Regions from separate parts of the Homo sapiens genome. Here region 2 is linked to region 1. The links come from fine-mapping of genetic effects on gene expression. Tissue or cell type: whole blood. Region 1 holds a variant in brackets; the other region holds the start of a gene. All regions are shown on one strand. Distances are from middle to middle.

Region 1 (8,184 bases):
GGGATGCGGCTTGAGAATTTGCATTTCTAACAAGTTTCTAGGTGATGCTGATGTCAATAGTCTGTGTACCGTTTGAGAACCGCTGGATTGATTCTTTGACAGTTTTTGAAGTCCGCTGCTCACCATATCACTTCATCCTCTTATAAACTTTCACTATGTGATTGCCTAAGAGCCCCTGCTTGTTGGCTGCTCCACATTTTCACACAGTTGTACTATTTCTTTCTGAAATGACATTGTTTGAGGGACAGTGGGTGGAACGTGTGAGCTCCTCACTGAAGGCTGCCTCCAGAATTCCCTGAATGGACTGCCTTGCTTTCTTCCTAAAATCTTTCCCCAAGAGGGCATAAAGGAAGGGATTAAAGCAACTATTGGCAGATGCTAGAGCAATGCATACATGATCCCAGGACATCAGAGTTTTCCCCAAGGGAGTTTCTGGGTCAGTAAGCAATGACAGGACTCCAAAAATGTGGTATGGAGTCCAGCAGACAAGAAAGACAGCCACCACCACCACGGCCACTCGAAAGGTTTTGCTCTGAGACTTGGCGAAGCGGCCCCTTTGCATTCGGAAGACAATGAAGCTGTAACAGGCTATCATGATAACAGAGGGCAGCAGGAAACCCACCACTAGCCTAGTGATCGTTATTGCCACGAGGGGTGTTGGCACTTGATCGTCATCTGTGAATTGGCCTAAATTGTAATAATCCTGGAAACCTTGTGGTAGCTCAGACTCGTAGAAGGAATTGCTAGAAGCGCTAGGGAACAGCTTTAAATGAGTAGAGAGAAAAGCATCAGAGTTATCCAGTGGGCTGGTTTCGTGATCTTCAATAGGAAACCCACTGGGGATTTTAGGTGAGACCACATCAGCAGGTTTAAATACATTAGAATACAGATTTTGACTTGTTAACCTAGCAGAACCCCTAGGGAGTGAATCTGCAGAAGGTCTTTGAAATGTTTGAGGTTGGAAGACAGTGGGGACTGTCCAAGGATGATCATTTGTTTGGAAAGAGGAAGGATCTAACCTATCATTCATTTCTCCAGGCGGCTGAACAATGTTTTCAAGAGACCTGTTTTCTAGTGGATCTCCATAAAAGTCTGGATAATCTAATGAGCTGGAGAGACCAAATTTGTAGCCACATCTATTATGGTTGTCTGTAGTGAAGATTTCCCGGTACACGAACACAGGAATGCACATCACAAAAGCCACCACCCAGATACATCCACAGATAGAGCAGGCCATCCCTACATTGCGATGATTCTGACACCAGATTGGCTTGAATACCACAAGACAGCGATCCAGGCTAATGGCAGTAAGCAGGAAGACACTGGCAAACATGTTGAGGACAATGATGGAGGGGATGAGCTTGCATAGGAACCTGCCGTAGGGCCACTGTCCCTGGAGAGCCAAGTGAGCCAGCGAGAAGGGCAAGGAGAGGCAGCAGAGGAGGTCCGCCAAGGTGAGGTGGAGGAACCAAATTGTGTTCACTGTCCGCTGCATCTTCAGGCCAGCCACCCACAGCACCAGCCCATTGCCTGGCAATCCCAGTAAAAAAGTAAGGCTGAGAATGACCATGGAGAGAATTACTGGGGGCTCATTCCATGGCTGTGAGAGTAGGTCAGTTGAATTGGTCTCAGCAGAGAAAGACGCCATTGCTAAACTTCTGCAAAAAGATGAAAAAAATGTTAAAACAAACAGTATCTTTTTGAAAATGCATACATATTCTTAGGATTCTAATCTTCCCACATAAAGATGTGGGATCATGAAACCAGAAGGTCCTCACGCTGTTTTAGTTTGCCTTCCTTCACCTCACACGGGACCACATAAAAGCATTCTCTGATAGACAATTATATTTATTTATTAATTTATTAATTATTTTTCAGACAGAGTCTTCCTCTGTCGCGCAGGCTGGAGTGCAGTGGATTGATTTCAGCTCACTGTAAGCTCCGCCTCCCGAGTTCAAGCGATTCTCCTGCCTCAGCCTCCAGAGTAGCTGGGATTACAGGCGTGCACCACCACGCCTGGCTAATTTTTGTATTTTTAGTAGAGACGGGGTTTTGCCATGTTGGCCAGGCTGGTCTTGAACTCCTGACCTCGGGTGATCTGCCTGCCTTGGCCTCCCAAAGTGCTGGGATTATAGGCATGAGCCACCATGCCCATCCTATGATAGACAATTTAAAATCTACTGTATTGATTTATGTGTGTATCAAAATCACAGCCTCATCTGGAAGTCCATATTAGTGTAAATTTCTCCTCTTTCTTGTACTTTCAATCTTGGTTTTTCCACTGGCTCCTTTCTTCACCCAGTGTGTTTAAAAATAAACAAATAAGCTAAATAAGTAAACACACAAAAATATCTGGACTGGAGGTCTCCAACCTGAGGTCACGAAAGGGTTTTAGGAAGTTCCATCACCACCTAAAATGATATGCAAAACTTCAACTTTACATATTCTCATTTCTCTGAGGGCAGAAGCTTCATCCACTCTCCCCACCAGATTTTCAGAGGACTCGCCGCCACAGAAAGAGGTACTCTAGACTCAGCGATGTCTTTTAGATACAACTCCATCTCCTTTTGCTTTCAAATTTTCCAAGAGTTGTTGGCCCTCTGCATTGACTTCCTCACTACCTATCATTTCTTTCTTATTTATTTGTGTTTTATGACCGTAACTTGGGAAAAGAGCTTTATTATTACAAAAGCAAAAAATATGCATGAAGAAAATTGGAAAATATAGACAAACAAAAAAGAAAATAAAAATATACTCACTAGTCAGTGATTATTATTTTAGCACCTGAATTTATATCCTCTTGACCTTTTTTTATGTGTGTGTGTGCATTTAGGTATACACATGCGTATCTTTAGACAGCAGGGGCTGTGATGGCTAGAAGCCTTCTAATATGTGGGACAGTGCTTCATTTATTTATTTATTATTATTATTATTATTATTTTTGAGACAGAATCTCCCTCCGTCATTCAGGCTGGAGTGCAGTGATACAATCTCGGCTCACTGCAGCCTCTGCCTCCCGGGTTCAAGCAATTATCGTGCCTCAGCCTCCTGAGTAGCTGGGACTGCAGTTGCCCACCAACGTACCAACTAATTTTTGTATTTTTAGCAGAGACAGGTTTTGCCATGTTGGCCAGGCTACTCTTGAACTGCTAGGCTCGAGTGATCCTCCCTCCTCTCCCTCCCAAAGTGCTGGGATTACAGGTGCGAGCCACCGCGCCTGGCCCTAACAAAAAAATTTTAATTGCCAAACACATGTATCATAACATTTACCATCTTCACCATTTTTAAGTACACAGTTCAGTAGTGTTTACCATATTCACGTTGTACAACCAATTTTCAGAACTTTTTCATCTTACAAAACTGAAAATGTGCTCAGGAAAGAATTCCCCATTTTCTCCTTTTCTCAGCCCCTGGCAATCACCATTGTACTTTCAATTTCTATGAATTCGACTACTTTAGATATCTGATCTAAGTGGAATCACACAGTATTTGTCTTTTTGTGTCTGGTGTATTTCACTTAGCATAATGTCTTCAAGCTTCCTCCGCGTTGTGGCATGGGTCAGAATTTTCTTTCTTTTTAAGGCTGAATAATATTCCATTGTAGGTCTATACTTCATTTTGTTTATCCAGTCATTCCACAGAGGACATCTGGATTGCTTTCACCTTTTGACTATTGTGAATTATGCATCAATGAACATGGGTGTAAATACATATTTTTTATA[C/A]ATTTTTTTCTTTTTTCAGTTAGCAGTCTCCACATTATACAATATGTACCATAAGGAATACCCGACCTTTATCTGTTTTGTTTCTGTTTGTAAAGATGGGGTCTTGCTATGTTGCTCAGGCTGGTCTCCAACTCCTGGGCTCTACTGATTCTTCCTCGGCCTCCCGAAGTGCTGAGATTACAGGCACGAACCACCATGCCCCCCCTTTTATATGATTATTTTTCAACTGTCCCTAAGACATCTTTTATAGCTGGCTTGTCCACGACAATATCTACTTCAGATCGCACTTTCTTCTTAAGTCTCTTAATTTAGCATAATTTCTCTTTTTCAAGGATACTGCTTTGTTTTGGGGCCTACGCCTACTGTTCTGAACACTAACTTCTTCTTTTTTTCTTTTTTCTTGAGATGGAGTTTCGCTCTTGTTGCCCACGCTGGAGTGCAGTGGCGCGATCTTGGCTCACTGCAACCTCCTCCTCCCGGGTTCAAGTGATTCTCCTGCCTCAGCCTCCCAGTAGCTGGGATTACAGGCATGCGCCACCATGCCCGGCTAATTTTTTTTTGTATTTTTAGTAGAGAACGGGGTTTCTCCATGTTGGCCAGGATGATGTTGATCTCCCGACCTCAGGCGATCCGCCCGCCTCGGCCTCCCAAAGTGTTGGGATTACAGGCGTGAGCCACCGCGCCCGGCCCTTTTTTTTTTTTTTTTTTTTTTTTTTGTGATGGAGTCTCGCTCTGTCTCCCAGGCTGGAGTGCAATGGTGCGATCTCGGCTCACTACAGCCTCCGCATCCCGGGTTTAAGCAATTCTTCTGCCTCAGCCTCCCGAGGAGCTGGGATTACAGGCGTGTACCACCACGCCCGGCTAATTTTTGTATTTTTAGTAGAGACGGGGTTTCACCATGTTAGCCAGGATGATCTTGATTTCCTGACCTGGTGATCCGCCCGCCTCGGCCTCCCAAAGTCCCGGGATTACAGATGTGAGCCACCAGGCCCGGCCGGCCACCAACTTCTTAATTCTTTGTAATGTATCTTCTGCTTCCATAATTCTGCTAAAATTACTTCTAAAAACCAAATCCAAACGTTTGTTTCTCAGTCACCTTCCACAATATGTGTCATTAGATACACTGACTTCTTAACACTCTCTTCTCTTGGCCTCTGTGATATTACCTTCCCCTAACTGTGAACATGCTCGTAAATGTACCCTGCTTTATAGCTTTCCTGAACAATTCACTATTCCAACTTAATGCCATTTTCCGTTCCATGGCTAATGCTGTTTACTTCTATCTGGAATTATGCCCTTCACCAAGTCTTCAGCTTCTTAATTTGTGTGTGTGCGCATGTTTGAACCTTTTTTTCATATTCTATATGCAATGACACATTTTATCTTGTACAATAATTATAATGGCTGTCTAATCTATTATTCTGGATTTAAACTTTATGATGGTAAAAAGGAGTCTTATTCATAAATGCTCATTTCACATAATTTAACATAATGCCTTATGAGACACCAAGGTTAAAGATTATGTGGAAAGGCTGGGCGCAGTGGCTCATGCCTGTAATCGCAGCACTTTGGGGGGCCGAGGGGAGAAGATCGCTTGGGGCTAGGAGTTCAAGACCAGCCTGGCTAACATGGCAAAATCCCATCTCTACCAAAAATACAAAAATTAGCTGGGTGTGGTAGCTCACACTTGTAATCCCAGCTACTTGGGAGGCTGAGGCACGAGAATCGCTTGAACTGGAGAGGTGGAGGTTGCAGTGAGCTGAGATTGCACCACTGCACTCCAGCCTGCATGACAAAGAGACTCTGTCTCAAAAGAAAAAAAAAGAAAAAAAAAATTACTTGAATAGATGGATGCCCATTTTGGGGGTTGACTTTTTTTTTCTTTTGCAATTACATCTAAAATTCTAATTTGTATCCATGTAATCCTTACCCAGGCCTCTTCCTTAATTCCCATGCTGTCCCTTTTAACTTTCTTTTTGTGAAATTCCTAATTTTTACTGGATAAAATAACATTTTACTTTTATAGAGGCTCAAAATATTTTTGTGACTTGAAAGTAGTTCTGCTGAGTCAGCCAAATATTGCCATAGGGCCTCATATGATTAGCAGAAGTTAAAATAGCAAGTCAACAAAATAATAAAAAAGAAGACATGGGCTGGGCACAGTGGCTCACACCTGTTATCCCAGCACTTTGGGAAGCCAAGGCAGGCAGATCACCTGAGGTCAGTTTGAGACCAGCCTATCCAACATGGAGAAACTCTGTCTCTACTAAAAATACAAAATTAGGTGGGCATGGTGGCACATGCCTGTAATCCCAGCTACTCAGGAGGCTGAGGCAGGAGAATCGCTTGAACCTGGGAGGCAGAGGTTGTGGTGAGCCGAGGTTGCGCCACTACACTCCAGCCTGGGCAACAAAAGCAAAACTCCATCTCAAAAAAAAAAAAAGAAGAAGAAATTATTCTCATTCCCCTTTCCATGGCCTTGTCTACTCAGATATTTAAATACTATCACGGTACCCCCCTAAAATATTGAGAGAAGAATAGAGTCATGGGATGCTAGGGCTGAAAGAAAACTTGGTAATCATCTCTCCTCTCCTCATTTTGTTGTTGTTGTTGTTGTTTGTTTGTTTGTTTGTTTGTAGAGATAGGGTCTTGCTATGTTGCCCAAGCTGCTCTCAAACTCCTGGACTCAAGCAATCCTCCCATGTTGGCCTCACAGTGTGCTGGGGTTACAGACATGAGCCACTGTGCCCAGCCTACGTTTTCTCTGCTTTTATTTCTCAAGTTTGACAGTGAAACTCAGCAAATTAGATTACAAGCATATAATCATTACTAGGGAGGTTCTTGGATTTCAGGTCCGAGGACTGTTAGGCAAATGCTGTTTTTACTACCAAAAAAAAAAAAAAATCACATTAAAAAAAAAAAGATATATGGTATTGCTAATAAAGGGGAAGCTGCCGAGAACTGCATGAACTGAAGTAGCAGGGACTGCAAACAGCAAAATTTTAATAAAAATAGAGTTATCTGTCATGAGCTATATGTTAAATATTGTTATTATCTGTTTTGAAATGAAAGTATGTAGGAGTCAGGGATTAAAAGTCCTTTAGAACAAGGCTGGGTGTGGTGGCTCACGCCTGTAATCCCAGCACTTTGGGAGGCAGAGGCGGGTAGATCACCTGAGGTCAGGAGTTTGAGACCAACCTGGCCAACATGGTGGAACCCTGTCTCTACTAAAAATACAAAAAAATTTAACTGGGTGTGGTAGCACGTGCCTGCAATCCCACCTACTCAGGAGGCTGAGGCAGGAGAATCGCTTGAACCTGGGAGGCGGAGGTTGCAGTGAGCTGAGATCATGCTACTGTACTCCAGCCTGGGCAACAGAGTGAGACTCTGTCTCAAAAAAAAAAAAAAAAAAAAAAAGTCCTGCAGAGCAAGATTACTTTTTACATTTCTTCAAGTTAATTTGGCTAAAAATACCATACCTTTATGTGTTTAAGATTAGTAGAGGATTAAAAAAAATTATTACTAAGTTGACCAGCCGTAATTTAAAGGTAATTAATATCCTGAAACTAAAATTCCACTGTGATAGAGAAAGAAAAGTGGACCCCAGAATCAAATTGTAGTAATAGGATAACAGAGTCAGTAGCAATAAGGAATGGGCAAAAGAATAAAAAAAAGAAAGAGGAAATGGAAAGGGAAAAAAAGTGCAATCAATTATTTGAAAAACAAATTAATGGGGACAGCTGGAATCAAAGTTCAGGGTGAAATACATAGCCAATTCAAAGAAAGGAAAGAAATGATGTAAAAATTCACTATTAATTCCACTATGAAAATATTAAAAGCAAAGACAAATGCAATGTGGAATATTTAGAAAAAGGAAGTTAGACATAGAGATAAGATAAAAGAATTCAAAGTCAGAGAAGGAATAGGGGAAATAGAAGATAGTGACACTCAAACTCATTACCTATAATGAGCAAAACAGGCTAAGCACAAGTCATCAGGTAGGTCTAGGTTTTCTTACCAAAAAACTGAGACAGTAGCTGAAGGCTTCAGCACCTGGATGTCTCCACGAGTCCTGTCTGGTCCCCACACTTAGCCACAGTGAAGTCATGAAGTATGGCAAGAAAATTTGCTGAGCTTTCTCTTCTTCTGTTCTCTCTCTGTTTCCGGCAATAAGTTAAGTCTTATGCTCTAGACCACTATCTGACCTCACAGGAAGAGTTTCAAAGTGAGTCATTTCTAAATGGCTTAGAAAGGCAAAGCAGGAAAACAGAAGTAGGAGTTTATAATCCTGAGACATTTTCTGCAGCACACAGAGAATGGTTAGAGAGAGGGTACCTCTGTACATAGGGTTCAACTTTATAGGTTTTGTTTAGAAATGAAAAAAAAAAGACTCTATGAGATGTGAGGGTTGGAGTGGGGAGTGGTTGGGGAGGAATGACCTGAATAAACTCATTTAATTAAT
Region 2 (8,184 bases), 20 kb after region 1:
CAAAGCCACATACAAGAACACTAGCTTGACTTAGCACAGTCTACTCAGCCCAGAACCTGTGAGCTGTGTAGCTACTACCCCCCGGTGGTGGGCAAAGATAAGTTCGAGACAAGACATTTTTAATTTTTTTATTTTAGTTTATTTTTTTTTGATACGGAGTCTCATTCAGTAGCCCAGGCTGGAGTGCAGTGGCATGATCTTGACTCACTGCAACCTCCGTCTCCTGGGTTCAAGCAATTCTCCTGCCTTAGCCTCCCAAGTAGCTGGCATTACAGGCATGCACCACTATGACCAGCTAGTTTTTGTATTTTCAGTAGAGACAGGGTTTCAACATGTTAGCCAGGCTGGTCTTGAACTCCTGACCTCAAGTGATCTGCCTGCCTCAGCCTCCCAAGGTGCTGAGGTTACAGGCGTGAGCCACTGTGCCGGCCCAAGACATTTTTAATTATTTTGATTGGGAAAGAACAAATCATCCCTGTTAAGGCAGGCTGAAATGATCATTCATTTAGCAAATAAACATACAGAGTTCTTACTATAGTCTGAAAACTGTGCTAGATACTGGGAAAACACAAACCTGTTTCTTTCCCTTGGAAAACAGAGATGCCAACAAGCAGTTGAATGCAATGTGCTAAGAACTAAAACAGCTGTACAAATGTTGTGGGAGCATAGAGGAGGCAGTTACCAGTTCTATTTAGAGAAGTTGAGGAAAACTTCTGAGATAAATTGATATTTAGATTAGATCTAAAGGCATCTTACCAAGGAATGAACGGGAAGTGCATTTCAGTCTGGACAAATATGTTCAGCATGAATAAAAATGGCATGTATGGAAAATTATGGCAATGTGATCAGTTAAGCTAGAGAAGACATCGTGGGTGAGAGTGAGGAAGACTGTATTTTTTTCTGTTTCTGTTGAGATGAAGCAAGAGAAGGGAAATTTAAATTTATATAAAGAAAAAACATGGTTAAGTAAGGGTTTTTTTTTTTTTTTTTTTTTAGGTGAAAGGACTTGAATATACTTACATGGTGAGGGAAAGGGGTGAATGGAAAATGAGTTTTAAGATACAGGAAAGAAAGGAGATAACTGATTAACCAGGTCCCTGAGGAGATTGGTCCCTGAGGAGAATCCAGGGCACACACAAGTGGATAGGAGAAAGAATAGATGAAGATGCAGATAGGAGTATGAATAGGGTGTCATTAAGTTGAGAGAGTTCACACAAACTTTATTTTCTTAGGGAAGTAGTAAGATGTTTTACCTGTCAAGAAAGAAAAAGAGAAGACTTAGAGTTGAAGGCCTGAAAGGGCAGCAAAATTTGGAACAACCATTAAAGGGAATGAAAATAAAAACTAGCAATGGCAAATCTGGGTGTTAAGGGCAAAGCTGAGACTCAAACCCATAAACTTTTAGGGACACCAATCTTTATAATTGTGTGATTTGCTTTTGGAGAATGATGGAGGGAGATGGTTGGAATATATAAGACTGGAGTCTTTTGGGTTGGCTGTGATGGAAAGACAAAGAGGAAAGGAAACTTAAGGATGCTGGCAAGAGAACTGTTGAAACAAGGAGATGGGAGGAATAAAGAGAAGGCTAACAATGTGCAGAACATGAAGAAGAACAGGTGAGGTAGAAAAGAGAGGTAAAGATAGTTAGAATTTATGTCAAGAGATTGTATGGCTAGGAAGAGTTAACTATATGGGCTTTGAAATCTCTAAAAGATTTGGGAGAAGAGGAAGAGTATAAACTAGTAAGAAGGTGAACCAGAAGCCAGAATCCTCCAAAAATGATTGCCAGTGATAACACAGAACAGAGAAAAAAAAAGAGGTACAATGTGGTGTAGTCATATGACCTAGGCTTCAGATGAGATCATAGGGTCAGAAATAAGGAACAACAAGTAATAAACCACTTTTCTGTCTTTATTTTTCTTTTAACATGTATTCAGTGACAATAATAGCTATATAAATCTTAAACAACAGAGAAATATATGGAGGAGAAAATAAGTTTCTTTCCCCCACTTAGCCTTATATCCTTTGAAAGCCTTCTCAATGCATTTACATGCATGCATATATAATTTTGGGGTGTTTCGACAAAAGTTGATAATGCTGTATGTTTTTTGCAGTTGGCTTTAAAAAATCTTGGATCTCTTTCAATGGCTAACCCTTTAGTTCAAAACATCTCATAGTAATAGATATACCATTAACCATTTCCCATTGATAGATGGTCATTTTGTTTCCATTTTTTTCACTATTACAAACAATGCTGTAGTATTATTGTACATACTTTTTTGTGCATATAAGGATTTCTCTACAATATTTATTAGTGAAACTGCTAAATTGAAGATTACGTCCAATTAATATTTTGATAAATTCTGTTAATTTCCCTTTTAAAAATGCCGTGCCAATTTACATTCCTGCCAACAGTGTATGAGATTAGACTGTTCCTCACGTCCTCGCCAGGGATAAATGTGGTAATTCTTTTTGAAATTTAAGATATCACTTTCCAAGGTGGAGCAGACAAATTAGAGGCAGGTTTGCTTTTTTTTTTTTTCTCATTAAACTTTTTTAATGGGTCTCAAAATTCTGTGACAAATTTTTGGATGTTTCCATTAAAAAGTACTGATTTAAAAAACTAATAACTTAAAACTGCCACACGCAAAAAAGAAAACCAGTGGTCCACAAAACATTCTCCTTTCCTTCTGAAGAAGAAAACCAGTGGTCCACAAAACATTCTCCTTTCCTTCTGAAGGTTTTACGATGCATTGTTTTCATTAACCAGTCTTTTACTACTGAACTTAAATGGCCAGTTGAAACAAACAGTTCTGAGACCGTTCTTCCACCACTGATTAAGAGTGGGGTGGCAGGTATTAGGGATGATATTCATCTAGCCTTCTGAGCTTTCTGGGCAGACTTGGTGACCTTGCCAGCTCCAGCAGCGGTGAAGACTGCTGCTGTTGTAATGAGGCAGGCTTGAGTTTCTGTCTCAGTTTTGCCACTTGCTATCTGTACTGTCAGGGTGTTGTGGTTAAGTTTACCTTTGGGGCGCAGAAAAAGCATATTTATGGTGAGAGTTCGGTAGCATTTATCATTATAATAGAACTGGGAGCTAATATAGGCCATTAGATAGTTCATTATGCTTCCGATTTTATCAGGAATTGGGTTGATCCCACGTATAGTCTATTTAACAGGATCAAATTTTCCAAAAAGATAATCGGAATACACGCCGAAAGTGTGGCAAAACATTTTAACAGGTGTCGTCCTGAAAAATCGGAGATAAAGAGTGTAAGGCACTAAATCAAGTTGGGTGTTTTCAGCGTTTAGACTCTGGAGAGTTGAAATCCACGGTGTCTATGACCAGATCATACATCATTCTCTGCAGGTACCTCGTCTGGGACTACCGGCTGGAGGTTGCCTCTTTTCTGCCAGGAGACTACAGTTAGGAAGTGACTCCTGTAAGAAAATCCGTCACGATTCAATATGGTCCTCGTCCTCGTAGGACACTCCAGGCACCTGCCTAGAGTAAGATGGCGCTTTTCGTAAGCACCTCTCCAGGACAGAGATTTCCATAACGAGAGTCACGCACTTGCAGGCCATCTTTGCCATTATCCAAGACGGTGAGCCGTGCAGCCTCATCGTTTCCAGGTTTCAATATGGCTCCCCGCGTCACCGAAAAGGTTAATCTCAGAAACTAACTTGAACTCGCGCGGAAGTGACGCAACAGAAGTTGTCGCGCTTTGCATCTCCGCCTCCCGTGCTCCGCCTCCGGTCTTACGTTTCGCCCCCGGCAGCGCCGACAGCGGACCCAAGATGGCGACCGAGTTGGAGTACGAGTCTGTGCTGTGTGTGAAGCCAGACGTCAGCGTCTACCGGATTCCGCCCCGGGCCTCCAACCGCGGTTACAGGTACTAACCCCGAGGCGCTGCCGCACACGCGTACTCTGTCGCAGATGACAGCTTCCTTCTCAGCTAGCACGCTGTCCGTCCCTGCCACTACTACCTCTGTATTGTCACCTTGCTAGCCTCCCTACCTGGGTTGTCATCTCCCTGACCACCTGCTCCATCTCCACTCTGGACTGTCATCACCATATTTCTGCCGTTTTTTTTTTTGTTTTGTTTTTTATTAAATTACCACTCTGCGTTATTCCACTCTGCCTCTCCCGTAATCCCCTGGGGCACCCATCTGCTCCCCATCATGCACTTTCAGTCGTGCTTGCTCCATTGCCAGTCCCCTTTCATTCGCTCTTCCCTGCGTCCTTCAGCTTATCATCCTCATCCTTTCTCTCTCTCTCTCTCTCACACACACACACACACACACACACACACACACACACACACACCTTTCCAGTTCCCCATGCACATTTATGGGTAATCGTGTTGCTTGCCACTCTGGATTATCTGATTTATTTTTTGTACTGTTGTCAATTTCGTCACCAACTGTCATCATCCACCATTCGGTTTTTCCTTCAGCAGTTTTACCAGTGAGCAAAGGTTATGATCATAAGCTTTACAACGGTTGTTCATTCTGTTTCTTCTCATTGTATTTTCTTGATGATTATATAGTATTTTCTGTCTTCCTTCCCTACCTCCCTTCTTAACCTCTCCTACACCTTTTCCCTCCAAAGTTGAGGCAGCATTTTTCTCTGTTGGGCCTAACTACCTACCTTGTAATCCAATGACTGTGAGGTTCTGAGGATGCTATAGGACATTATGTAGTTGAAAGACAGTTCACTGGGCTTCATGTTAAACCATATGAGTGTGAGCCCTTTCCAAGCCTCAATTTTCTCATCTGTAAAATAGAAAAAAAAACCTGTTAGTGATGATACCTGCGCTCTTATAATGTGCTTAACAAGGGTTTTTGGGAGAGTAAAATTAAATCATATAATGGATGTGAAAGAATGTAGGAAATGCAATAAAGCAGTTACAAATACTATTTGTTTGTTCTTTTTTTTTTTTTTTTTTTTTTTTTTGAGATGTAGTCTCACTTTGTTGCCCAGGCCGGAGCGCAATGGCTCAATCTCAGCTCACTGCAACCTCCGCCTCCTGGGTTCAAGCGATTCTCCTGCTTCAGCTTCCTGAATAGTTGGGATTACACGCATGCACCACCACACCTGGCTAATTTTTGTATTTTGAGTAGAGATGGGGTTTCACCAAGTTGGCCAGGCTGGTCTTGAACTCCTGACCTTGTGATCTGCCCACCTTGGCCTCCCATAGTACTGGGATTACAGGCGTGACACCACGCCCAGCCGTCGTTTTTTTTTTTTTTTTTTTTTGTTAGAGAGGCAGGGTCTCGTTCTATCATCCAGGCTGGAGTGCAAGTGGTGCAATCACAGCTCACGGCAGCTGTGTACTCCTGGGCACAAGGGATCCTCCTACCTCAGCCTCCCAAGTTGCTAGGGCTACAGGCATTGCCTCACAATGCCTGGCTAATTTTTAAATTTTTTTGTGTAGACAGGATCTTGATATATTTCCCAGGCTGGTCTCGAACTCCTGGCCTTAAGTGATTCTCCTGCCACAGCCTCCCAAAGTGTTGAAATTACAGGTGTGGGCCACTGCACCTGGCCAAGATACTGTTCTTATTCTTCTCTCTGACCCACATCATCATTGTGATTTTTCCTCCTGGCATTTATCATTACCTTGGCTGAAAAGTTACCCTCTCCTTATGTCTGTTATTTTGCCCCTTACTGGCGTTTTATTCATCATGAATCAATATTTTTATGCTTGCTGACCTGTGCGCTGGGCCCTGTGGGTTGCACCTTTGGCAAAGAGGTAGCAGTTCTGTTTTTAATAAGCTTTTAGTTGGACCCCAAACTGACCCTAAGTAGAAATCAACATGCTTTTAGATGGTAGTTACAGGTACTATATGAGTCACTTAAACATCACCTTCTTTGGGAGGCCCTATGTGACCCTTCCATTCTGGTTTAGATATGCACCCTGTGTGCTTCCATAGCACCTTTTTCTTTTTCTTTTTTACTTTAAGTTCTGGGATACATGTGCAGAATGTGCAGGTTTGTTACATAGGTATGCATGTGCCATGGTGGTTTGCTGCACCTATCAACCTGTCATCCTCGCCCCTCCCCCGAGAGGCCCCAGTGTGTGTTGTTCCCCTCCCTGTGCCCATGCGTTCTCACTGTTCAACTCCCACTTGTGAGTGAGAACATGTGGTGTTTGGTTTTCTGTTCCTGCATAGCACTTTATTCTTATCTCTATTCCAGGGCTCTTCATTTTGTATTGTAATGGATTACAGTGGATTGTACAATGGATTGTTTAGTCTCCTTTTTTCTCCAGGCTAGACTGTGAACAACTTGAGATCTTTTTAACTTTATATTCCCAGGGTCTAGCACAGTATCTGGTACACTTTGGGCACCCTGTAAATGTTGACTGAAAGAAGAAATCAGTAGATTACACAGAGAAACCTAATCACATAAAGTGGCATTGATTGAACTGTTAAATAAGGTCAAATAGCTCATTACTTCCAACTTTAGGAGTTAAGACTCCTAAAGGATATGATACATATTGAAGTGGGATTATATTCTTTTTCTTGAAGTTTTTTTTTTTTTGAGATGGAGTCTGGCTGTGTTGCCCAGGCTGGAGTGCGCTGGCGCAATCTCAGCTCGCCACAACCTCCGCCTCCCCGGTTCAAGTGATTTTCCTGCCTCAGCCTCCCAAGTAGCTGGGACTACAGGCACGTGCCACTATGCCCAGCTAATTTTTGTATATTTAGTAGAGACGGGGTTTCACTGTGTTGGCCAGGCTGGTCTCAAACTCTTGACCTCGTGATCCGCCTGCCTTGGCCTCCCAAAGTGCTGGGATTACAGGCGTGAGCCACCGCACCCGGCCTACTTCAAGCTTTTTAAAACACCTCCCCTCTCACCCATCTTCTCTATCTTCACTTCTTAGTTTTCCACAACCTTTATACTTACATCAGTTAACTGCACTGAGCCATTAAAGCAGTTTCTTAATTTTCCTCTTTTTCCTGTTATCCTTCTGTGTTTTCCATGTCTACTGGCATTTTTTATCCTCCAAGAGGCACCTTATCATCAATCACTTTTTTAGTACAGCACATGAAGAGAGCGGAATTAAGTTTGAATAACGATATTTATTTGCTGGGTTACCTTTGGCAAATCACCACTTTTGAATGTTAGTTTCTTCATTTGTAAAAATGACTATAACAATACTTACCTTGTAGGATCCTCTCACTTAATCTTCTTTTTTTTTTTTTTTTTTTTTTTTTTTTTGTTGTTGAGACAGAGTCTCGCTCTGTCACCCAGGCTGGCGTACAATGGTGTGATCATGGCTCACTGCAATCTGTGCCTCCCAGATTCAACTGATTCTCGTGCCTCAGCCTCCTGAGTAGTTGAGATTACAGATGTGCACTGCCATGCTTGGCTAATTTTTTGTATTTTTAGTAGAGATGGGGTTTCACCATGTTGGCCAGGCTGGTCTTGAACTCCTGGCCTCAGGCAATCCACCCACCTCAACCTCCCAAAGTGCTGGGATTACAGGCATGAGCCACTGCGCCTGGCCCTTTCACTTAATTTTCACGAGAATGGGCATAATGCCTGGCACATAATAAATGCTTGATAAATGCTGGTTTTCTTTTTGTTTGCATAATCTTTCTTATTTACCAGAACCCACTTTATATTATAAGCAGGATTTATTCTCTAGGCTGACATTAAAGGACAAACTGGGCTTTTTAGAAAGCAGGAGGAATTTTTCCTTTGAGTGACTGGTAAGATTAGAGAGAATAATTGATTTTAATTCACCTAGTGTAAGCTGTTCGTTCCCAGACTTTCACTGACCAGACTTCTAGACTATGGGAAGGAAAATTTGGGTTGACAAGAAACTTATCAGGCTGAGTGCGGTGGCTCATATCTGTAATCCCAGGACTTTGGGAGGCCGAGGCGCACGGATCACTTAAGGTCAGGAGTTCCAGACCAGCCTGGCCAACATGGTGAAACCCCGTCTCTACAAAAATACAAAAAACTTAGCCAGCCGTGGTGGCGCACACCTGTAGTCCCAGCTACCTGGGAGGCTGAGGCAGTAGAATTGTTTGAACCCGGGAGGCGGAGGTTGCAATGAGCTGAGATCATGCCACTGCTCTCCAGCCTAGGCGACAGAGCAGGACTGCGTCTCAAAACAAACAAAAAGGAAACTTACAAATGCTTAGAAAACAATCTGGGTGCGGTGGCTCACT

What was found. PIP is the estimated chance that this variant, and not a neighbour inherited with it, causes the effect.
Region 2: it holds the start of NECAP1, and the variant in region 1 is fine-mapped to the expression of NECAP1 in whole blood (INTERVAL, PIP above 0.99).

Annotation. Positions count from the first base shown.
Region 1 is chr12:8,058,538-8,066,721 of GRCh38, forward strand. C3AR1 (complement C3a receptor 1) reads right to left here and starts at 7,822. Exons shown (of 2, transcript NM_004054.4): 1 at 7,741-7,822; 2 at 1-1,658. The coding sequence starts at 1,648. The coding sequence ends at 200. The variant C/A (reference allele first, on the strand shown) is at 3,723.
Region 2 is chr12:8,078,491-8,086,674 of GRCh38, forward strand. NECAP1 (NECAP endocytosis associated 1) reads left to right here and starts at 3,784. Exons shown (of 8, transcript NM_015509.4): 1 at 3,784-3,893. The coding sequence starts at 3,799. RefSeq lists enhancers at 3,046-4,245, 3,677-3,896, 3,967-4,026.